3 separate regions of the Homo sapiens genome follow, and all the other regions are linked to region 1. Evidence: fine-mapped expression QTL. A gene starts in region 1. Each other region holds a variant in brackets. All regions are shown on one strand. Distances are from middle to middle.

Region 1 (8,181 bases):
TTTAAAACTTTGACTTAAAAAACAAAACAAAACAAAACAAAAAACCTTTGACTTAAGGCTACATTTTGAGAGATCAAGAGCATTTTCTTTCATACTGCAGTCCAAAGAAAGGACATTCCACCCATCTACATTCCATTGCAGTTTCAATCGGTTAGGGTAGTTTCTATTTTCCATTCAAAAACTATTGAAAAAGAATGTCAAATTTGCATTTCAACAATGGATGGCAGCGATTAACCAGGCATATTACTTGCAACAAAAGCTCAAAAAGTAAAAAAGAAATTATTTTTGTGAAAACACAAATAGCCATAGTTCTATAAAAACAACCAATCACATATTAATATCATAGAACAAGTAGTCTTCTCAAACATATTTGATGTTTATTACTGTATCACTTTGAATATTTGCGAGAGCCTATTTACTTCTAGCAGAGGTTTACATTAGCAATATAAAGTAATAAATAAATAAATAAATAAATAAATAAATAAATGAAGTCCGGGTTTTTCTTTTCAGTGTGGGAGACCCCACATAAAGCAACAATGTATCATAGCTTTGACACTGGATAAATGGGATGTTAAGAGTGCACTTCTATTCAATAACATGCAAATGGTGACATAATTCACTTTTTGAAAGCTTCCCCTTGGAACAAGGGGAAGAGTTCAGAGAAAACTAAAGGTAAAAAGTTGAACTGACAACTAGAGGTGTATCAAAACTGCAAATGACAATCGTTTTTGCTTTAACAATCTTCTGAAATAGGAATGTAAATCCTTGAGACTTCCTGAATCAGAGGTCTAACCATAAGCGTTGATTCCCCTAACAACCTAAATTTAACAAAATGAAAATTCCTCCCTACAGTTTTTCGGCTTGCTTTATCATTTTTAAATTCCTGGGAAAGACTTACATTCTCGATTATTGGTAAGAAACGCTTAGAACTAGGTTTTGACATGAAATACCAAGAAAGTAACCGCCAGTAAATTGCCCCCAATCAAACCTAACATTGCTTCTGTAGAACTACATTTGGACCCATGAAATGTAACGTGTGTGTGTGTGTGTATTTTAAAACTGGAATTTCGGATGGCTTTTTCTTTTCTAGCCCTAAAAGGCATTCTTATCATTTGTGTTGCTCACATGTCCGGACCACCTTGCCTCCTGAGTCAAACCAATGGGGGATATAGCCAGGACGATGAACGAAAAAGGCGTCGCTGCTTGGAGACACCTGTTGAGGTCAGTCGATTACAGGGCCGGCCTGCTTCTGTCCTCCAGTTAAGGATGGATTGCAACCACTCCTCGTTAGAGAAGAGCCTAGCCCAGAGGAGCTCAGGCAGTTAACTGGAAACAGCTGCAACATCTGCCCGGCCGCCTCGCCCCTGCCCGTGGAAGGGCGAGGGGACCGCATGGCAGCAACTGCACTGCACAAAAGACAACACCTATCACCGGGAGCCACCGGCCTTCCATAGACCCCACAGCTCCCGGCCCTAGGGCATCCCCCGAGGAGGCAAGGGCCGGGGGCGAGCCCAGGTGCGGCGAGGGGGAGGAGGTTTCCGCCACGCGCCAGGGAAGAAAGCCTGACTCATGTCGTGGCAGCGGCAGCAGCCGCGGCGGCGGGCTCCTGGGAACTGAAACTCGTGATGCTGTTGCTGCGGAGAAAAGCCTCATTACCCATTCCGCAGGCGGGGGACACCACCCAAGGCGCGCACACCAAGCGCCGGCGCTCCCGCCGCCTCCGCCGGCCCTTCCGCGCCGCGCCCCCTCCTCTGCCGCGTGCCCGCGCGCGCCGGCCGCGAGTGTGAAAAGAGCGGACACACCTAACCTGGGCGCGCGGCAGGCGCGCACCCTGCCCGCCCCCACCGGGCCGAATCACGCAGTCCGACCCGGATTCGCTCCTTCGGCCGGAATTCCCCACCCCCACTATCCCCTCCGGCTCCACCACTCCCGGCTTCGGCGCCTCTGCCAGCCTTCGGTAATTTCCGTCGGGAGACCTGGCGCTCGCCTAGGCCCGAAGACCCGCCGCCTCCTGCCCCGCCAGACCCGGCTTTATGTCTGCGGCGCCGAGGCGCATGCGCAGACGCCATCTTCCCTCCTCCTCCTCCGCCTGCCCCCTCCCCCCAGCCACCACCGCCTCCTCTCGCCGGCGGTCGCCCCTCCTCCTCCTGCGCTCCGCGCTGGTCCCTCCCCTCCCGATGCCGCGAGAGACTGGGGGATACGGTGGAGCCGGGGGAGCCGAAGAAGAGCACTAGTAACAACCACCACAGCCCCCTCCCCGCCCGACACCCTCCCTCGGCACCCACTCACTCCCCCGCCCCGTTTGCCGACACCGACCAACCCCACCTCGTTCCTTTGAACGGCGTCGGCTGCAGTCGCTGCACCAGCCCGTCTGGCCACCAACGCCGCGGAGAAAGGAGCCGCCGCCGCCTGCGGCCCTCTCCCGCCCGGTCGCGGGAGCAGCGGGGTGAGGAAGAGCCGGCTGCGGAGGAAGAGGATAAGAGAGGGTCGCACCCTCCGCCCTAGCGCACGTCCCGCCGCCCTCCGGAGAGGCTCGGGTGCCGGCCCCTTCCTCCCCGAGGACGTGTGCCGAGTCGAGGCGCCTGCCCTGAGGGAGGAAAATGCTCGGGCTCCATGGCTGCCAGTGATGGAGCGGTCCCTGGGCTCCCGCTGCCACCGCCGCCGCCGCGCCCCGGCCGTGCTCCGCGAGGACCCGGCGTCTCTGCGCGCCCGCCCGCGCCTCGTTGCTGGGCTCACCGTACCGGGCGCCTCGCCGCCGCCCCGCTCGCAGCCGCGTCGCCCCGGCCCCAGCCGCGGCCAGCGTTTCCTCACCGAGCAGCCGCCGCGAGCCCAGGGGGTTTGAAAGGGTCTGCGGGGCGCGGGGGGAGGGCCGAGCGGGGCCGGGAGGGGAGGTTTGAGCGACACTGAGCTCGGGGCTCGCTGGCGGCGGCGGCGGCCCCGGGGGTGGCGAGGGGAAGGCGACATTTGCTTGGCGCTGCCTCCGTGCAGAGCGGCCGGGAGGGCTTTGCAGCGGCCGCCGACGCGGCGGGAGGAGGGGGCTGAGGCGGCTTCGGAGTTGGCCGGAGAAGGTGGGCATTTCTCGCTTTTCCTCCCCTTCCTGCGCTCTCCCCCTCCCTCCTGCCCCGCACCCCACGTGAAGCAGAATATAAAGGGGGGTGTGAGGCTAGAGGGGAAAGTGAATGGCGAAGGACTGAAGGGATCCCCCCTTCGGGTCCCCGGCCGCCCTGTTCACCCTCGTTCATCCTCCTTTCCGAAGCTCGCTCTCGAAGGCAGGAGCGACCGGCGCCTTTGGCTGAGGAGGAGGAGAAGGAGGAATCGCGCCAGGCGGAGCGTCAGGTCCCGTTTTCCTCTCCGGCGTCTCCAATACAAAGATTACGGTGCAGAAGGAAATTGCACTCGTCTCCTCCGCGCCCCCGGTACCCAACACAATGCACCAGCCGCCTGAGTCCACCGCCGCGGCCGCCGCCGCTGCAGACATTAGCGCTAGGAAGATGGCGCACCCGGCAATGTTCCCTCGAAGGGGCAGCGGTAGTGGCAGCGCCTCTGCTCTCAATGCAGCAGGTACCGGCGTCGGTAGTAATGCCACATCTTCCGAGGATTTTCCGCCTCCGTCGCTGCTTCAGCCGCCGCCCCCTGCAGCATCTTCTACGTCGGGACCACAGCCTCCGCCTCCACAAAGCCTGAACCTCCTTTCGCAGGCTCAGCTGCAGGCACAGCCTCTTGCGCCAGGCGGAACTCAAATGAAAAAGAAAAGTGGCTTCCAGATAACTAGCGTTACTCCTGCTCAGATCTCCGCTAGTATCAGCTCTAACAACAGTATAGCAGAGGACACTGAGAGCTATGATGATCTGGATGAATCTCACACGGAAGATCTCTCTTCTTCGGAGATCCTTGATGTGTCACTTTCCAGGGCTACTGACTTAGGGGAGCCCGAACGCAGCTCCTCAGAAGAGACCCTAAATAACTTCCAGGAAGCCGAGACACCTGGGGCAGTCTCTCCCAACCAGCCCCACCTTCCTCAGCCTCATTTGCCTCACCTTCCACAACAGAATGTTGTGATCAATGGGAATGCTCATCCACACCACCTCCATCACCACCATCAGATTCATCATGGGCACCACCTCCAACATGGTCACCACCATCCATCTCATGTTGCTGTGGCCAGTGCATCCATTACTGGTGGGCCACCCTCAAGCCCAGTATCTAGAAAACTCTCTACAACTGGAAGCTCTGACAGTATCACACCAGTTGCACCAACTTCTGCTGTATCATCCAGTGGTTCACCTGCATCTGTAATGACTAATATGCGTGCTCCAAGTACTACAGGTGGAATAGGTATAAATTCTGTTACTGGCACTAGTACAGTAAATAATGTTAACATTACTGCTGTGGGTAGTTTTAATCCTAATGTGACAAGCAGCATGCTTGGTAATGTTAATATAAGTACAAGCAATATTCCTAGTGCTGCTGGTGTGAGTGTTGGGCCTGGAGTTACCAGTGGTGTTAATGTGAATATCTTGAGTGGCATGGGCAATGGTACTATTTCTTCCTCTGCTGCTGTTAGCAGTGTTCCTAATGCAGCTGCAGGGATGACTGGGGGATCGGTTTCAAGTCAGCAGCAACAACCAACAGTTAACACTTCGAGGTTCAGAGTTGTGAAGTTAGATTCTAGTTCTGAGCCCTTTAAAAAAGGTAGATGGACTTGCACTGAGTTCTATGAAAAAGAAAATGCTGTACCTGCTACAGAAGGTGTGCTGATAAATAAAGTGGTGGAGACTGTAAAGCAAAATCCGATAGAAGTGACTTCTGAAAGGGAGAGCACTAGTGGGAGTTCAGTGAGCAGTAGTGTCAGCACACTGAGTCACTATACAGAGAGTGTGGGAAGTGGAGAGATGGGAGCCCCTACTGTGGTGGTGCAGCAGCAGCAGCAGCAACAACAACAACAACAGCAACAACCAGCTCTCCAAGGTGTGACCCTCCAACAGATGGATTTTGGTAGCACTGGTCCACAGAGTATTCCAGCAGTTAGTATACCACAGAGTATTTCTCAGTCACAGATCTCACAAGTACAATTACAGTCTCAAGAACTGAGCTATCAGCAAAAGCAAGGTCTTCAGCCAGTACCTCTGCAAGCCACTATGAGTGCTGCAACTGGTATCCAGCCATCGCCTGTAAATGTGGTTGGTGTAACTTCAGCTTTAGGTCAGCAGCCTTCCATTTCCAGTTTGGCTCAACCCCAGCTACCATATTCTCAGGCGGCTCCTCCAGTGCAAACTCCCCTTCCAGGGGCACCACCACCCCAACAGTTACAGTATGGACAACAGCAACCAATGGTTTCTACACAGATGGCCCCAGGCCATGTCAAATCAGTGACTCAAAATCCTGCTTCAGAGTATGTACAACAGCAGCCAATTCTTCAAACAGCAATGTCCTCCGGACAGCCCAGTTCTGCAGGAGTAGGAGCAGGAACAACAGTGATTCCTGTGGCTCAGCCACAGGGTATCCAGCTGCCAGTGCAGCCCACAGCAGTCCCAGCACAACCTGCAGGGGCATCTGTCCAGCCTGTTGGCCAGGCTCCGGCAGCAGTGTCTGCTGTACCTACTGGCAGTCAGATTGCAAATATTGGTCAGCAAGCAAACATACCTACTGCAGTGCAGCAGCCCTCTACCCAGGTTCCACCTTCAGTTATTCAGCAGGGTGCTCCTCCATCTTCGCAAGTGGTTCCACCTGCTCAAACTGGGATTATTCATCAGGGAGTTCAAACTAGTGCTCCAAGCCTTCCTCAACAATTGGTTATTGCATCCCAAAGTTCCTTGTTAACTGTGCCTCCCCAGCCACAAGGAGTAGAACCAGTAGCTCAAGGAATTGTTTCACAGCAGTTGCCTGCAGTTAGTTCTTTGCCCTCTGCTAGTAGTATTTCTGTTACAAGTCAGGTTAGTTCAACTGGTCCTTCTGGAATGCCTTCTGCCCCAACAAACTTGGTTCCACCACAAAATATAGCACAAACCCCTGCTACCCAAAATGGTAATTTGGTTCAAAGTGTTAGTCAACCTCCCTTGATAGCAACTAATACAAATTTGCCTTTGGCACAACAGATACCACTAAGTTCTACCCAGTTCTCCGCACAATCATTAGCTCAGGCAATTGGAAGCCAAATTGAAGATGCCAGGCGTGCAGCGGAGCCCTCCTTAGTTGGCTTACCTCAGACTATCAGTGGTGACAGTGGGGGAATGTCAGCAGTTTCAGATGGGAGTAGCAGCAGCCTAGCAGCCTCTGCTTCTCTTTTCCCGTTGAAGGTGCTACCGCTGACGACACCCCTGGTGGATGGCGAGGATGAGAGGTAAGATCATGTCATATTTCTGGAGACATTCAACAGATTTGAAGTTAATCTATTTAGTAGCTATATGTATGCACAAAATGACTCTAAAACATTGTATATTGTGTTTTGTATGTGAAAAATGCATTTTTATGGGAAGTTTTATAGAGCAAGAGTTATGGAATGGTTTCAGAGGGAGTAGGAAATAATAGTAATATGTAAACAATATTTTCAGAATAGTTGTTGAGCATGTGTTCACATTAAAAACAGGTTTGGGGGCGCCAAGTGGTTTTATTATCTCTAAAATGCTTTTTAGAAATATTATGGAAAGCTTAATTTTTGCTAACCCACATAATAGTTAATCTATTTTGAGCTGCTAAAATAATCTCTTGGGGGGTTGTGGTTCCCACGTTTGTTCTCCTTTACTAGACATCCCTTTTTCATTTCTACTGTGTTTGATCTTAGTCTGTGAAAGATATTGTTGCCTACTTTTCCTAGTCAGATATGGTAGGAAAGATGACTTAATCTGGGTTATATAGGTTGCCCTCATACTCCAACTGACCAACTTTTGCGTACTTATTTAATGGTCATTTTATCTGAACAGTAAAGGAATGGGAATCTTATTTTGTGGGAAAGGAGGACATAAACTATCAAAATAACCAGACTTATCTTGATAGTATGCTGAACATTTTTTCTTTTGCATGGTAGATCAAGGTGGTAGCCATTTTAAAGAACAGAGAAAGTAAGTCTTGGAGGATTGAATTTATAGAGGCGTGAAAATAAGACCTTGGTCTCTGGCTAATCTACTCCACCTGTTCCTTTCTTTCCTTACCAAAAAGATACAGAAAGCCTAAAGTACATTATTAAACCAAGCGTTTTTTCACGTAGATTGGAAATAATATGCCAGTAACGCTTATTGAATCAAATTGTGTCTTTGAAGCTGACTGGCTAAAAAAGTTGTGAAATCTTTCATGTTGATTTTTAAAGTAATGTTCTTTTCACAAATTTTCCAGTCTGTTACTAACCTTGATTAAAATGCTATTATAGGAGTTATGAAAAGACATCATTTTCACGGTGGAATTTGGAGTAAGCGTGCAAGATATTTAATTATTTTAGTATTAGTTGGAGGGTTTTGTGATTGAACTTTCATCAAGCGAATTTAAGCATTTATATTCTATATGTATGTTTGTGGGTTTTGCTTTGGAAAAATTGAGCATATTGCAAAATAGTTGTAATTTTAGAAAAAGAAAACAGGTCAAATGTTTCAGTGAGGTTTGTGTTATTTAGTTGTTTAAAAGGTAAGATAAAGACATGGTTAAATTGATAAAATCTTATCTTTCAAGATTTTTATTATTTTTCTAATAGTCAGGTAATTAAAACCTTGTTACCTAACCAAATGTATTCTGTATTATTTGTACAAAACTGTACTCTAAAAGATAAACTTTTAGGAGGTAGTTTCCTTAATTGTTCCATTATTATTGTTAAACCTTTAATTTTATCATGCTAATACTCAACTAATTTTAAAAGAATTACCACAAATATTAATGTTTTTTAAGTCAAAAGGTTATGATTTGAGTGAAGCCTCTATAAAAACAGCTATATTATGTGGATGCTAAGTTTAGAGAAACAAAAGACGGGTAAAATACACAAACAAAAACACTCATTTTGAATTCAAACTTGCCATGATTTTGTAATTGCCATTTGTGGTCTCCTGGCTTGACTTTCACCTCTTTTTCCTCCTATTGGTAGGACATGATAGGATTTTCCACAGCTTGCCCTTCCAGGCAATTAAAGTCAGATGATGCTACTTTCAACTAGAGTTTTAACTATAGGAATAGGGTCCCAGTTTAAGATATTAATATAAA
Region 2 (8,181 bases), 260 kb after region 1:
TCTGGTGCACATGCATGTGACAGAATGTTATCTGGAGGTCAACTTTAGGATCTGTGAAAAACAAGAAAAAGAAAACTGGTTTGCAGTGCATGTTAGCATGAATACATGATTCCTTCCCTCCTTCTGTCCTTTCTGCCTCTCCCTTCTTTCCTACCTCCTAGTGTCACATGGATCAAACCACTGAATGTAACTTGTAGTTCCTGTCGAATCAATCAGTGAGGTCACAGAAATCATAGGCATGTTTTGTCATTTGAGTGAATGAGCCTTGGTCCCACATTGAAAACAAAGTACTAGTGCATCTTACCAGTGTATGTGGGTACAAAGACACCACTGATTTTGGCATCCCTGGTTGAATGTCAAGGGATACGGATAGGAAGTATAATGTGGTTACTTCTATAGCCAGTTCTTGCTTAATTCTCCAGGCTTTACCCGTTTGTTGCAACCCCAAAGCCCTGCAAATACATTACAAACTATAAAATATCAATGGATTAAAGGCAACGGGGTTCAACCTACAAGAATATGACAACAGGGTAATAAATTGTTTGTGTGCATTTTATTGTGAAAAAAATACATAATACTTAGAAATGTTTTAAAAGAAAACTACTACCTAGATTTCTTTCACCCAAGTACAATTGTCTTTGTTTTTTATGTTTCTGGACAGCTATGGCTGTATGTCTAAATTTTCAAATTGTTGTAATCATAACGCATATGTACTTCTGAATAGAAGTAGATTGGAAGCATTCTTGAACTTGACATTCTCAATTTCAATTATTTGCCTAGGACTTCAAAGATCACAGTGGTTTGTAATGTTGAGGGCTTTGATTTGGAAATGGCTAGATTTTAAAGCTGATGGGCTGGGTGTGGTGGCTCACACTTGTAATCCCAACACTTTGGGAGGCTGAGGGGGGCAGATCACGAGGTCAGGAGTTCAAGACCAGCCTGGCCAACATAGTGAAAATACAAAAAATTAGCTGGGCATGGTGGTGGGCACCTGTAATCACAGCTACTTGGGAGGCTGAGGCAGGAAAATCGCTTGAACCCGGGAGGCGGAGGTTGCAGTTAACTGAGATCGCACCATTGCACTCCAGCCTGAGCGAACGTGCGAGCCTCCGTCTCAAAACACACACACACAAAAAGCTGGTGTGCAAGAAAGTAAGAATCACACAGTCAGTAAACAAGCCCAGCCCACCATTGGTGGGACCAGCATTTCAACACAGCTTTTGTGCTTTCATATGAAGCTTGCAAAGAACTCTCATGACGTGATAAAGACGTTGTTTCTTTGCAGATTTAGGTAAATTTAGTTAAGTAGCCTAATGATGTAATATAATGCATTCTAGAATTTATTTTATTGGCAGAATTTATTTTTATAGCTTTATAAGCAAATCCTGAGTTTATAGACTCCTTAAGAGTCTTGAGGGGTTACTTAACATTTTTAGCTATTGCATTTTAAAGGGAAAATTGTATGCTACAATGGTTTCCACTTATTTGGGAATTTGCAGAGATATTAGGCTATACACCTTGTGAATATCAATAGTGTACTGTATTCTATCTTTTCACGTGACAGTTTACTTCTTATAAATATTTTCCCATGGTGTTACATAATCCCCATAAAGATCATATTAAATGGCTACACAATATTCCATTGATTTGTTGTATGATCATTTACCAAACCATTGTACTACCACTCTACATTTAAATTGTTTTCAGTTTAGCACTACTCAAGATAATGTTACAATGATAAACTTTTTGTCTCCTTTTGAAATATTTTCTAGGGATACATTCCTAGAGGTGGGTAAAAGAGGATGGACATTTTAAAAGAGGGTTGACTTTTGGTATATATTATTATATTGTTTTCCAAAAGATGTATGACCATTTACAATATGACCATCAATATATTAATACCAGTCGAGTGATGCAAAGTAGACAGCATTGCACATAATGACTAAGGTTTTCTGTTAGTTAAATGGGTATATAATGATTCAGTATTATTGCTTTACTTTCCAATGCTTTGACTTGTGCCTAAGTTGAACATTGTAAATTTATGTAGAATTTAAAGTTCTCTTTTAAATGATTGTTAAAGCAAACTAAATATAGACTGAGAATATATTCCATATTTGAGTCCTTGTGGACAGACTGCAACCAATTTAATAGGTAGACAAGATTGAAAACCTAACTTAGGAGTATGCACCTGTAACAATAGCTGAGTCTTGGCCAATCCTAGCAGCCATACTTCAACCACTCATACACTGCTGAGTGTTCAAACTGTGTTCAAGTAAGGCAAATGCAGAGTTGTAACCAATCCAACTGTTTCTGTATGTCACCTTTGATTTCTGTATGTCACTTCCCTTTTTTTGGTCTATAAATTTGTGTTCTGACTACGAGGCACCCCTGGAGTCTCTCTGAATTGGTTGTGATTCTGGGGGCTACCAGATTCATGAATCATTCATTGCTCAATTAAACTCCTTTAAATTTAATGCGGTTGAAGTTTTTCCTTTAACATGACGTATTTGTTCGTATCCTTTGCTGGACTTCTTTTAGAGGCTCATCCTGAGCTTTGGAGTCGAGGATTTGAATCCCAACTCTGCTATTTACTACCTGTGTGATCTTAAGCAAGTTAGTAAACTTTCCCAGTCTCTGTTTCCTCCTCTGGAAAGTGAGGATAGTCATGTGTCTCTCATAGAGTTGTTGAAGGATTCATCAGGATGGCACATGTGCAGAAGTACTGAGCACACACATTAAAATGACTCATTAGTTGTTAGTCACGCTACATGGGTTTGGTTTGTTGGTTGGTTTTTACCCCAGTCTGATCCCTCAGTGGCTTTCCTGTGCCTCTGGAGATAAACCCTTCTTGGCCTCTCAGTAGCCTGACCACCTCTCTTGTCTATGCTCATTCTGCCAAATCCACCCTTCACGGGAAGTGTCTCAAATATTTCTCTGCTTCAGAATTCTATCTATGCCTTCCTACCAGCAGTCCCTCTACTCATTGACCCCACCAAACTTCTTTATCTAGAAAACTCTGAATCACCCTTTAAAACATAGCCTCCAGAAGCTTCCCTGCTCCTCCAGCCTCCCTTTACTCCTCTCTCTTCCGTAGACCCATGTGTATCTCTCTATAGCATTTACTGAACTATACTACATTGTCAATTGACTTGTTATTTTCCTCAGATAGACTCTAAACCTCATGTGAGTAAAAACCATGTTTTATTTGATTTTACAGCCTCACTTGTAGCACAGGGCTTGCCATGTGGAAAGTGTTCAATAAATATTTGTTGAATGAATGAATCAGTACCTACATTACTCATCAGGCATGGATCCAAATGTCTCAAAGAGGAAAGAAAAGTCACTTTCACAGAGCAACCATTTGCCATCACTGGAATTGGTTGGATTTAGAGCAGCATAATGAGAGAAAGGGTTTCACTCAACAAGGGACAGCTGGAGATGTGTAAATTGTGGAACTACAAAATATCTATGTATGTGCTCTTAGTAACCTGCAATCACCAGTCATGGTTCTGAATGATGTTCTAAAACCTCTGAGACATTGCTGTAGGCTACCGTGTTCAACAGTGGGTGATGCATACACTGAGGGCAAACC[A/C]CAAAGAGGAATCCCTAAATTATGATGGGCAGTGGTTGCATTGAAGGAAGTGATTAATCCCCCAAGATGAATATTTTCAAAGTGGCAACATCTATTTGGATGACTAAGTTCTGATTCAATTGTCTGAAAAATAAAAATTGATACATGCTTTGGCACATCTCTTAAGTGGTTAAAAAATACACACGTAAGGGGCATGGGTAGAGTCTAGCATGGGAAACCTTGGAATAAGCAAAACTAGAGTTAGATCTTGAAAGAAATGGGTAAGTGGGGAGTAAGCTTTTCTAACAAAAATAAGACATGAGGTGGGGAAAGAGTGAGGGGTCAGTTTCGGGTGAAGCAGAGGGGTAAGGGTGGAGTAGGATAGGGGGCTTACAGAGGTGCTAGAAGGCCACCTCAGGAATTCCTTGTTAGTGCAACTGTGCAGCTGAATGAGGGAAAGCCAGGGGCCTACTGCCTTCTAGGATGGGCTCCTAGAAGCAAAGCCTTGGATAGGATTTGGATGTGTGTGCTTTACTGAAGAGGTGTTCTCAGGAAATATCGACTAGGGAGTGAGAGGAGCAAGATAGAAGAGGGGAAGGAACTCAGCGAAGATCAGGTCTCAGGTGGAGATTAACCTCAGCTCTGTCCACTGGGGGGATTGGGTAGTCTCTTCATGAGCCCACTTCAGAATTGTGCCTGTCTTGAGGCCAGGGGGCTGGCCCTTTGTGCCATCACTGGCTGTTGGCCATCCTCAGAGGCAGAGTGCGGTTAACCTCCCCGCTGAGGTGCTCTGGTCAGCCAAGGGCAAACCTCCAGAAAAGGGGAGCAGCTGTGGGTAGAGAACAACCAAATTCTCAGCAGCCAGGAGATGGGAGCCCCACAGGGCAGAGAGGGGATCTGGATGAGGCCCAAACATCTCTATCTACATTCATGGTCACAGCTGATGAATTATTTTCTTCCCATTGCACATGGCTGCATCCCTGCCCCTTTTTAGGACTTTACTCAAATGTCTCCGTAAAGCTGTCTGTGGACTTACCAGTATGGAGGAGTGATCTCTTTCTTTAGATGTCCTAAGATGCTTCATCCATCCATACGTCACCTGCTAGATGGTCAGCTCCCCAGTATCAGGTCCTGTGTCTCATTCAGTTTTGTTGATCCCAGCACGGTGGCCAGCACATGGGCAGCGGGTGGTGGGGGGAGGTTCAGGATAAATGTGGTTAGAATGACAGAATGATGCTGTAGCCCCAAACAGGAAAGACTTCGGCTGTAAATCCATTTTTTTCTAGGTTGGGTCCTAAATGCTCTTGGTTTATTATCAGAACATAGCTCTGCTAAGTCCTTTATAATCTTGCTTTTCCCCCTTGAGCATTAATATAATCTTTTTTCTATCCCTTTGCCTGTGTACTACTAGTACAGCTTGCACAGTCGTGAAATTATAGCAATTCTGGAACGGCAACTTCGGGTGTTTTGTAGGATGCTTTCAGAAGACTAGCTTTTGAGCTACCCAGTGTTCAATCTCGCAGATGAATGTTGGGCCTATGAATTTCGTATTGAAGTGATGTATTTGACATGCCCATGAATACATGCGTCTGCCACACTGTGGCCTGCAGCCAGGCTGCAATGCTGAGCCTGCCTTCTGGATCCTCTTTTGAGAAGTCCCTGTAGAAAGCCTGCTAATTGCTTACCAGCAGTGGAGCAAGATGCCTTGGAAATTGCCCCATTGAACCTTCTTTTGCCCTTCAAAATGTCCTGGTGTTGCCTCTGTACTTCACATACTGAAGAAGGACCATGTAGAGGTCATGTAGGGCTTCCCAAGGCAGCATGGAGCCAGTCACCGTGGCCTGCAAGCTTCAGCTTGCTGAGTGTTTGGTCTCAAGGTGGAGAGTGGTGGGGGTTGGCAAGGAGCCTGTATTCTGGCAGAAGGACAGCATTTTCTGTACATGTTCTTTTGGAAGAACATTCAGGATGGTATGTGTTTCATCACACTATGCAACCTGATATATCCTGGGCAGGCTGGATTCATTATTTACCTTGTATAGTTTAATCAAACCGAATCTCCTTAAAAATGTTATTGGCAGAGGTGGGGAGTAGGTATTCCATGAAGCCTCTGCTGCCAAGTGTTAGAGTGCTTGACTTTTCATAATCCACACCGTCTGAAGGCCAAACATGTCATCTATTCAACTTAAGGGAAATTAAGTGATTCAGAAAAAACAGTGAATTCTGATTTCTTTTCTAGATTGAGGATCTGTATGTGGTCAGGTTTTTTTTTTTTTTTTTTTTTTTTCTTGAACAAAGCTACTTGCTGGCCAGAGAGAGGCAAATAAATAAGTCACTTACCACAGGCAACCAGGGTGCCCATTTGGGACTGGGTGATGTTCGTCGTGATGGGACTAATTAACTCTGGAAATGCTGAACAGGTCATGGTTAAGACCCTTTTGAAATGATTGGTGCCAGGCTTTTCCTGGGCATTAGTCCCTGTCCTCCCCAGATCCCTCACTCCAGCTACTGCAGGATGCAATTGACCAATGGCCAGAGAGACACAGCTGACGCCACGCTGAAGTGCTGAAAGCAGACAGCGCTGTCATTCATCTCTCTTCTGCTCCCGGGGCAAGGGGTGGTGACAGCTTCTTGTTCTTCTCAGGTGCCACCAACCCCCTTTTGATCTTCAGTCTGGTTAAACTAAAAAAATGTTTTAAATGACTCCATCTACTGAGAATTTCAATGTTGGCTCTATTACATTCCTTAATTTACGCTTGTTAATTTTGTCTGACTTGGCTTGCTTAGATTCCTTTGGACATATGATCCTTATGAATAAAACATTCAAGGGCCAAATGTTTGAGTGGGACATCTTGACGTGAATATTCCTGGAGAGTGGCAGAAAGCGTGGATCAGGGCAGGTGCCTCTGTCCCAGAGTGAGACCTAGAAACAGCTGTGGTGTGCTGGAAGGAATCCTCAAACCTGGAGTCTGACGATGTTTAAAGGCTGATTCTGCCACTAATGAGCTACTTGATCAGGCGGATTGCTTCCCCTCAGTTTCTTTAGGAGACGGTGTGCTGTGTAGTACTAGCACTCTCATTTTGCTGTCTCTGGGGGAAGATTATGCATCCTTGTCGCATTGTACTAGGTGTGGCCATGTGATTTCTGGCACCCCTCCCTCCTGCTGGCGAAGGACTATATATCCCTGCCCTATTGACGTCAGGCTTGGCTGTGAGATTTACTTTGGCTGGCAAAAGTGAGTATGAGGAATTGTGCCACTATTGTATAGATGCTTTAAGAGACATTGTGGTTCTGCTATCTCCATTTCTCTCTGTTACTGAGTCCTGGAGCAAAGAAGGCATGGACAAGGGCTGTAGCTGACCCATCATACATGTGTGACATGAGTGAGAAACAAACCTTTGTTGAGGCAAATGCTTAGATTTTTGGGGTTGTACATTGTTGTAGCATCGCTTAGTTTAAACACATTAATGCAACAGGGAATAATGTGATCTACTTGGTGGGCTTTTTATGAGAACTATTTGAGAGAATTAACCAAAAAATGCATTGCTTGCCTATGAGGTCCCAGGTACTGTATTCAAGGTATAAGGGCCACAAAATTGTGTAAGGCATGGGTCATGTCCTTCAAAGAGCTCATAGGAGAAGAGACAGAGATTTCTAAAAGTTATGTCAGTAACATTGTATAGTAGACCTATGCTTTTTGCAAGGCATTCAGACTGGGCCGTCACACATTCTCAAATTAAGGAAAACCTCTTAACATTTGACATCCCCCAGAAAATGCTGAAAGAACAGTGAGTAGAAAACAAAAAAGGCATGATGATGTGGATGCTGGGCAGATGGATGGGACCCCTCAGGAATTGAGTAGCTCACTCATTAAACCTAAGCCTTACAGATCAAAATACTTTATCAAACCCTCATGGAAATATTTTAAGCACGTGGTTGCTTGCAAGAAGTCAAAACCATAAATGTAAATGATCTAAGAACGAAGAGTATGTGGTATTTAACCTGGCAGTACATGACATGCAGTATAGTTTATTGCTTGATAAATGGCTGGTCTAAAATTAGAGAATTGGGCTAAAGTTAGAGAATAAAATTCAAGGAGATCCACGATGTTCTTGTTCTAATCAGAGGTTGTTCAGTTATCCAAAAGAGAAACCCACTCAAAGCAGTTCAGTTTAGAACTGGGGAGTGGAAGGATAAAGGGGAATCTTGTGCACTGGAAAGGCTCCCAGTCTCTGGTACCCCTGTCTGTCTCTCATCTCCATTTCTCACTGAGAATGTCCCATGTTCCTCTCTTGAAGCTAGCTTTCCCAGCAACCCTGCAGCCTCCTCACTCAGTCTTGCCTCCTTCTGCCTTGCTGCTGTGGCTGTGCTGACCTGGCCCCTGTCTATGTGATGATGATGGTTAATTTTATGTGTCAACTTGACTGAGCCATGGGGTACCCAGAGAGTTGGTCAACATTATTCTGTAGGTGTCTGTGAGGGTGTTTCTGGAAGAGAGGAACATGTGAATGTGCAGGCTGGGTGAAGAAGATGGTCCTTCCTAACGCGGGTGGGCCTCATCCCATCAGTTGAAGCTCTGCATAGAACAAACAGGCTGACCCTCCCCTGAGGA
Region 3 (8,181 bases), 300 kb after region 1:
AAAAAAATATTACCAGGCATACTAAAACTGAAAAAAACACAGTTTGAAGAGCCAGAGCAAGCCTCAGAACCAGACTCACATGTGGCAGAGATGTTGGAATTATTAGATCAGGAATTTAAAACAAATATGATTAATATTTGACTCTACTGGATAAGTAGACAGAGAGCAAGAACAGATAAGGCAATGTAACCCAGGAGATGGGAATTCCAAGAAACAAGAGAAAATGCTTCAAAAACACTTCAACAGAAATAACAAATGTCTTTGATGGGCTCATTGGTAGACTAGATAAGGCTGAGGAAAGAATTGCTTGAGGATATCTCAACAGAAACTTCCAAACTGGAAAGAAAAAGATGGAAAAAATTAGACCAGAAAATCCAAGAACTGAGGGACAGCTATAAATATGTAACATGTAGATGGAATCATACAGTATGTGGCCCTTTTTAAATGGTTTCTTCCACTTAGCAAGTTTTTTTTTTTTTTTTTTTGCAGCTGCAGAGTCAACAGCAGTCCTATTTCCCCTAAATTTGCAAAGGGATAGTGAGCTCATGGGAGAGAAAAAGAAAACAGGAAAACAGTGATGGGGTATTTGGGGACTGAAAATGCAAAACTAAATAGATGCAAAGTTCATTTTAAGACATTTTCTTCCTGGGACCATGGCTTACTCCCCAGGTGTAAATATTTCTCTTATCAAAAGACTTCCTTTTGTTTTGGGCAATGGGTAATTTATCTGGAGTCCTTTGGCCTCTAGATTATGTCTTAGTATACCGGTTGGTAGAGAGTCCCTCTCTTTCCCGCTGTTGTGTTGACATGGCCTCCATTAAACACCACAGAATTTAGGATTTGTGCTGCTTGCTTCTTTATGAGGCTGGTGCCTGATAGTGGGGCCACACAAAACTGCTTCCCCTCCAGAACAAACTTGATGAGCTGATAAGTGATATAGCCATGCCCGGTACTGTTTTCATAAGTGGGTTAAATTCACATTTGCAAATTCAGTAGAGCAGCCCTTGTCCATCTCACTGTGTCGCTGTGCAGAGGAGCTGAGTTCTGAAAAGCTCTGGTTTCCTTCTCTGTAAGCCTTGCTGGCACATTTTCAAAGACCACATCAGTCAGTGTGAGTGGTCCTGGGTCCTTTCCATGCAGCTGGCTCAGAGTTTTACAGACCCTGTAACAGAATCTCATAAAGACTGGCTGCCATTTGGGGTTAAAGTCTGGTGCTTCTCCCTCTTTTCTTGTATGAAGATTTGATTTTTAGATTTGTTTGGAAAATGACTTTGTTAGCCTAAATCATCTTAGGCTTCAATGTTAAAATAGAGTGGAATATGCAGTAGTTGACTCATACTATTGTAGCTAGACAACTTGTCACTTAATACTTCATGACTTTAGGGATTGGTTAAATTAATAATTTTATAAGGCACATAGACGCCAGAGAGCTTCCTCCATTTTGTTCTTTTCTCTAGCAATGTGCGTCATCATTACACCCCTACCAAATAGTGTATTTTAGAACCTGTTATGCATAACTCTGCCTCTGCTTTCACTTTCTGTTTCCCTCTCTCTCTGCCTCTCCCTCGGCCTCTATGTCTCTTTCATTCACTCTTACTTATATATACTAAAATATTGCAAATTCGCTCCCTAATAATTAGGAAGTTTTTTGCATGTGGCTTGAGGTTGTCCTTCAAAGGTTTTAAATATGTGTTGATGAGAATAGGCATAGGGAGGCAGGTGTGGGACAGCAGATGGAAGGGATGCTCTGTGTTCAAAGATCCCACCCTAGTGAAGTGAAGCTTCTACCTGGGGTTAAAGACCAACTTCCTGATTGTAACAGCTGTGACCCAGAATCTACTCTGGGGTTGACTTCTTCTGAGAGCTGATTTGGCTGTGTGAGCCTGGAATACTGAAGTCAGGAGTGGGAGCAGCAGCAGCGACAGCAGGAGTATGTTTGCCATCAGGCATCAGTGAGCTCCTAACCCCTGGCCAGCCCGGTGTGGTGGGAAAGCACAGGTTTTGCAGTCAGGGGAGCTGGGTTGGAGTTCAGGGTTCAGCCATTTACTAGCTTTATGGTGCTGGGCAATTTATTCAATATCTCTAGTCATCAATTTACTTTTTTATTGTTGTAAAAGAAATACCTCATGTTGGTTATTGTGAAGGTTAACTGAGCAATGAATGTGCAGGTATGGGGAGTTTCAGATGCAAGCTTTGTCTCTGTCCCTTGAGAGGACAGTGTGTCATGTGACCCATTTGAGAATACCAGTGATTTAGCGCAAAAAGTTGCTTTATCTCTTCATTCCTTCAATTTTTTGTTAATACATTTGCTCATTCATTCAATGCTGGCCACGAAGCATGTGACACCAGTCAGGTGTTGGGGATACTGCTGTGAAGAGTCCGACCCTCTCCTCCTCCTACCAGTCTGGGGGAGATGCTGACCACAAATGACAGTCACAATCCAGTGTGGAGAAGCACCACACTGGGGAAAGTACAACATGCTCTGGTGGCTTTGGAGTGTCAGACAACAGAGCGGGGAAGAGGTTAGGAAAAGAAGTGGCCCACAGGATAAAAACAAGCAGCTGGGTGAAGGTGAGGCAGAGGATGTAGCATGGCACACAGCAGTGGTGAAGAAATGAGGATGGCGGGCCCTCTGTAGATAGGTGGACATGCCTGGAGTATCGAGTGTGAGGGTCGTGTTGAGATATATACAGAGATATGGAGCCATCACAAGCTATCTGCACCCAGGAGCTTTCTCCTGGCCTCCCCAGTGACGTTCTGTACCTCAGATGTTGATTCCATGGATGCTGTCATCACCAAAGATGGGATGGATGCTGGGACACTCCTAGCACTTAGAGTTAGAACTTGCAATACATGTTTCCCGTAGAAACAGCATGTTAAATGGTAGTTCAATGTAGTTAGGATATTGCTACAAATAACACCTTTGAGTGTACTTAATTTAAACCTGTGAAATGTAGAAAAATCAAAGAGGACAGGTCCTGTTCCAGGCTAGAGGTACTTTTTGCAATGCAGAGCACTATCCTTCTAGATCTGGCCAGCAGAGCATGAATCGGGACCTCAGGCTGGCTTTGCCTGCATTTGGATTTGAATTTGAATGTTTTGGTCTAGGAGGCTCTCTGCACAGGGTTTCCATGATTCCATCACTCCCTGCTGTTTCATATCTGGCTGACTTCCTCACAGTGAGGTTGCCTACTTGCCCCTGGAGGTACTGGACTTGGAAACCCTTTCTCTAGGCAGTAGGGGTTGGAGATAGCATCATCGTTTCCGACTGATTCATCATCAGCTTGGTGTTAGTCCACTTACAAAGTCAAGCATGACAGTTGAGGCAGTGTTTGGAGGTGCCCTCTGACTTTCCACCAAATGCTTTTTTTTTTCTTTTCACTTCTTCCAATCCTCCTTTTTTTTTTTTTTTTTTTTTAATCATTTCCTCTAGGCACTTTTCTTTTCTAGGGCAATTGAATTCAATTCAGCAAAAGTATATGGGACGTCTTCTATGTGTCTGGTACTTAGGATGCGAGGGATAACAGAGCACAGTGTCACTTTCAGGGAGATCACAGTCTAGCATGAAGGGGTGGGAGACAGACAAGTAAAAGGGCTGGTTCTAGATGGTGAGGTGGATGCCCTGATGTGGCAGAGGCTAAAGAAAAACCAATGAGGAGTACCTGAGCCATCTTGGGGATGAGGAAGAGGCCAGCAGGAGTTAGCTAGACAACTGCAAGTACACTCCAGGCACAGGGTCAAATGGGAGCAAAGGATCAGACACTTAGCAGGGTGCACTCAGCATCCTGCAGGATTGAGCAAATGGCTGGGGGCAGAGCCAGGGAGAGAGACAAGAACCGTGAGAGCTGAGGATGGGAAGGCCAGCTCCTGCCTTTCCTGTCTTTCCCCAGTGGCAAGTAGGGTAGTACTTAGCATCTCCTGGCACCACTCCAAGCTGAGATGGGCAGTGACCCTGGCCCTGTAGGAAGCCTGTATTTTTCAAAAGCTTCTTTAGAGAAAAGAGCCCCAGGAGAGTAGAGGGCCTGAGTCTGCACTGGCAGGAAAAGTGGACTAAATTCAGGCCAGACTCAAAATAGCTCCTGGAGGTTGACCAGATGGAAATTAGATTACTGCTGTATGTGGGCATAGCACTCAGGAGGCCAGTAAAACAGTGAGAACAAGGGAGTGATCCCTTCTAGAGAACGGGGTGCAAATGTTACAAAATATTTGTGAGCCATGACTTTTAAAAAAATTCAAACGCAAAGATTTTTTTGAGTGCCACAGGGGAAAAATTACTTTGTTAATAGATGAGTATCAAGAGATCAAGAGGATTGTCAGTCCTGCTGTTTAAAATATTAATATCTGGACAAGTTAGGGATGTAACAAACTGCAGCCAGCTTTTTAATGTTTCTTCCTGAGCTCAGAACAATTCAGTCATTCTCCTTAGGTTGCTGTAACCAGGCATGTGGTATCCCATTAGGAAAATGCACCCAACCTTAGACAAGGGCTAGTCTGTAACTCTCTTGTGTCTGTCTGTCCCCTGGATTTACGTGGAAGACCACCTGCTTAAGATAACCCAGGGCCAGGTGCTATGTATACCTGTACCATCTATGCCACTTTGGTTTTCTTCTGTCATTACTGTGTTGTTTTGGGAACTTGGTTCAGGGAAATGATGATGCCAGCAGGGCAGATTCCCTGAGCTGCCCAGAATCCCAGAGGGTACCCCTGGGGCAGGCGGGTATGGTTTACTCATCTTCAAGCTGCAGGAAGTAGTGGCTCCAGGATAAGCA[C/T]CTCAGCCTTCGGAGAAGGACGGGCTTGGGGAAGGGAGATTTTAATGTAGTGTAAACAAGACAGAGGATTTCATAAGCTTCTCGGAAACTCCTGGACCTGACACTCATCATCTGCTACTAAATTTGGCCCTTTCATGTTCCTTGCACAGGATATAATGGCAACCATGACACAGACTCTGGGCTGAATTTAGATAAACAACATGGCTGCTGAGGATTTGTACCTGTTAAAAGTCTAAGAAATGTCAAAGGTTGTAGTAAGTATGACTCAGGACAATTTCATTTAAGTTGTCAAAAGTAGGAAAAAGTCAGCAGTATAGCTGATCACTCTCTTTTGTGCTTTTTTGCACTTGTAATTTCCATGACTCTCACTAAACTGCGGGAGGTAAAACTATTTTTGTTCTCTGGGCTTTTGCGTCGTGTGTAAGCTGATTCCCAAGTTTGGGTAATATTGTGGAAAGCGTCAGTACCACCACTGAAGCCTCCTGGAGCCCCATCACCTCCACCCTCTTCCCGGGCAGGTGGAGTGAATCTCCCTGACTTTGAATTTCCAGAGTACTCGTGCATGCCTCGATTACAGCACTAGTTGCTTACAGCAAATTATCTGTTCACGAGTCTGCCTCCCCCACTGATCTTTGACCCCCATAAGGGGTTCTTTCATTGCCTTTTGTATTCTCAATGTGAGGACAGTGCCTGGGACACAGTAGGCACATATTTGATGCTGTGCGGTCATCCTGATTCTGGAGGATGATGTTTTTGGTAGTCAAATGACAATGGAATAGAGCCCCATGGAAAGACAGTTCGGAGGTAGAGGAAGGAGCAGAGAATTTGGAGACCAGAATTCCTTTTTTATTTATTAGATGTTCCTGTCACTATGGGCCAACCATCAGTTTGACCTTTTGTCTCCCATGCAGTGATAATAGTGCTTTCCTTCTAGATTTTTGGGAGAGAATTAAATGATGCAATAGATATGAAAATGACTTTGCGACTGGGCTGAGTTTTATGGAGGAGAAGCATCATCATTAATGAAAAGAAGCAACTGTAGCCAGGGATTGGGACAATCACACTGCTGTGTAGTTTCCTCACATGCTCTTTGGATGATCTTGGGCACGTAAATTACTTCTTGCCTGTTGTGGATTCTTCATCTCTAAGGAAATTGTCAGTTCTATTTCCCAGGGTCGTCGTGAGGATCAAAAGAGATAACACACGTGAATATAGTTTAAGATTATTTGATAAAGGGGGGATGAGTTTGTCCAGGGTCTTCCTTTTGTCTATTTTCTTTGCTGTCCTCTTGTCTGTCCCTGCCTCCACACCACCAATTCTGGGCCTATGTACGTGCATGTAACCCAGAGGGTTCTTGGCAGTCTGCTATGAGGATGGGATGGAGGAGGGCAGTGGAAGCCACCTGTGCTGAAAGCCCCCTTTTGGGGAGATGCTTTCAGGTGTACAAACAGACACATACATTTCTGATATATCTGTATCCAACTGGGCCCAGGTAATGCTTGCCACTCTTAAATAAGATCAGCTTTTTCTGTCAGCAAGACAATGTAAGCAGTTAGGGTTCTTCCCTGTGCACTGAAAATAAAGCACTTTGAAGCCTGATTAAGTAGATAACCAGGACCCTAGATTCACCAAAATTATGTTGCTACATTAGTATTTACAAGAAACATTAGCAAGCCAAGGCACACAGCTGGTGTGTCAGGGTATATGTTAAGACAGTAATCTGTGGTCTGTCCTCTGGTAGAGGAATACAGTTGGGTGAGACTCTGTTGTACTTTATTCATTTTATCCCAAGTTTCTCTTTCCAACAGGTCTTTTAGATTGTGAACTCCCAGAGAAGAGAGACATGAGGGATCTTGGGGTGTCAAGTGGAAGCTGAGAGGGAGCAGACGATATCCCAAGCCTGGGGGGCTGTTAGAGATTGGTGAACCCACCAAGTGACAGCATTTTCACCCTTCTCTGTCCACACCCCAGGTTAGCAATAAGACATGGGCAGAAATGGTTGTGTAGAGTTCCCAGAAGGACTGAACCCCAGGGAATGAGGCTACTGGCTCCAGCACCAATTGGATTCCTCTGCCCCTTACACAGGCTGGGAAGTACCAGGCACTCAGACTTCAAGAGATCATGTCAGCTCTTTGTTTGACCCTGGTAGGTCAGAAAACCCCAGTAGGTACTGAGACAGGATCTTGAAACCATTGCTCAGAGTTGGATTTGATTAAAATAAATAAATGTGACATTTCTTGGGTGGCTGAATATGAGCAAACTTACTCTCACTTTGTTGGCACTATTTATTTTAGAAATTTGACTCCCATGGGGCTCTATGGGGTCAGTTGATATCCAGTCCAGTTTCTAGCATCTACATCTTCAGGAATGTAGGGGTTCGAAGTGTTGGCAGTGGAGCAAGAGGAAAAGCTGACAGCCAGGTTTCAGAAGTCAGACTGGCGGGGTGTAGTGGAGACTGCCATTCACCTGAGCTGGGAGTTCAGGTGTCTTTCACTTCTCTTCCCATTGAGAATCTTTCAAAGCCGTGGAAGTTGTGACAATGGCAAACCACTAACCAGGTACCATGCTAAGAACGTAACACACATCAACTCATTGTTGATGTCAATACCCATAGCAACTTTGGGAGCTTCCCATTGTAGAGATAAAGAAACTGTACAGAGGTACAGAGATGTGCAAGATCACAGAGCTAGTCAGAGATTGAGCCAGGAGTGAACCAGGTAGCCCATCTTCAGAGTTCATGCCCTTAGAAACTGCATTCTTCTGCCCGTCCATCTTGACTCATCTAAGCTGGGTTGTTAGGTGTCATTTGCATATTCTTTTGTGGTAATTAAGAGGTAGAGTACTTATTTTTTTTAGGACAAATCTGTAGAAGTCCTAAAACAAAAGGGGATCTCTGGATAACTCTTGGTTGTTTCATGTCAGCAGTACAAAGCAATTCTCCTCCTAGCACATTTTGCTTAATCTAGATTTTGCGTCAACAAATAACTTTCAGTAACTGAGGCAATCTTGAAGCGGATTAGAGCAAATTCCTCCTGTGCTACTCCATAACTAAACCAAATCTGGTCTGGTCTGTGGGGCTTGTCTTTGGAAATGCTGAGATATAGGGAGTGGCAGGGTGAAATCACAACATTCTCTTTGCTTTCTGGCAAGAATGTTGAATTCTTACTGAGCGGATGTGGCAAACACAGAGTGGTTGGTTTTATCTGAACCGTTCCATTAAAATGAAATTTGACTAGGGATTTGAAGAGTATTATGACTACCTTGGGGAATTCCTGTGTGGATGTAAATAGAGCTTAGTATTTGTTTATAGGTAAATACCCAAAAGATCATCACAGGTGAGGGTTTAAAAGATACAGCAAGAGTAGCTTTTAAATCAGGGCTTTATTTTATATGTGGGTACTTCGCACATAGC

Alleles and levels. Positions count from the first base shown, and alleles are read on the strand shown. Sizes are in standard deviations (SD) of each study's normalised expression. Not every link is listed here.
In carriers of allele A in region 2, the expression in monocytes after Pam3CSK4 of the gene that starts at base 3,173 in region 1 tends to be lower than with C alone (large effect, 0.80 SD a copy in Quach 2016).

Evidence for each region. PIP is the estimated chance that this variant, and not a neighbour inherited with it, causes the effect.
Region 2: its variant is fine-mapped to the expression of TSC22D1 in monocytes after Pam3CSK4 (Quach 2016, PIP 0.95). The same link has a PIP of 0.9 or more in monocytes after LPS and monocytes after R848.
Region 3: its variant is fine-mapped to the expression of TSC22D1 in whole blood (TOPMed, PIP above 0.99).

Annotation. Positions count from the first base shown.
Region 1 is chr13:44,571,322-44,579,502 of GRCh38, reverse strand. TSC22D1 (TSC22 domain family member 1) reads left to right here and starts at 3,173. Exons shown (of 3, transcript NM_183422.4): 1 at 3,173-6,340. The coding sequence starts at 3,429. It overlaps TSC22D1-AS1 (TSC22D1 antisense RNA 1), which reads right to left and starts at 3,607. Exons shown (of 3, transcript NR_038381.1): 1 at 3,233-3,607; 2 at 2,326-2,461; 3 at 1-1,401. RefSeq lists silencers at 1,481-1,530, 1,711-1,910, 2,181-2,420, 2,431-3,140 and an enhancer at 3,461-3,700.
Region 2 is chr13:44,308,518-44,316,698 of GRCh38, reverse strand. It overlaps LOC107984552 (a long non-coding RNA gene), which reads right to left and starts at 5,457. Exons shown (of 3, transcript XR_001749973.2): 1 at 4,608-5,457; 2 at 1-51. RefSeq lists an enhancer at 3,532-4,731. The variant A/C (reference allele first, on the strand shown) is at 3,593.
Region 3 is chr13:44,267,896-44,276,076 of GRCh38, reverse strand. No RefSeq gene overlaps it. Among named protein-coding and RNA genes, the nearest start is that of MIR8079, 76 kb to the right of the region's middle. RefSeq lists an enhancer at 1,436-1,615. The variant C/T (reference allele first, on the strand shown) is at 4,770.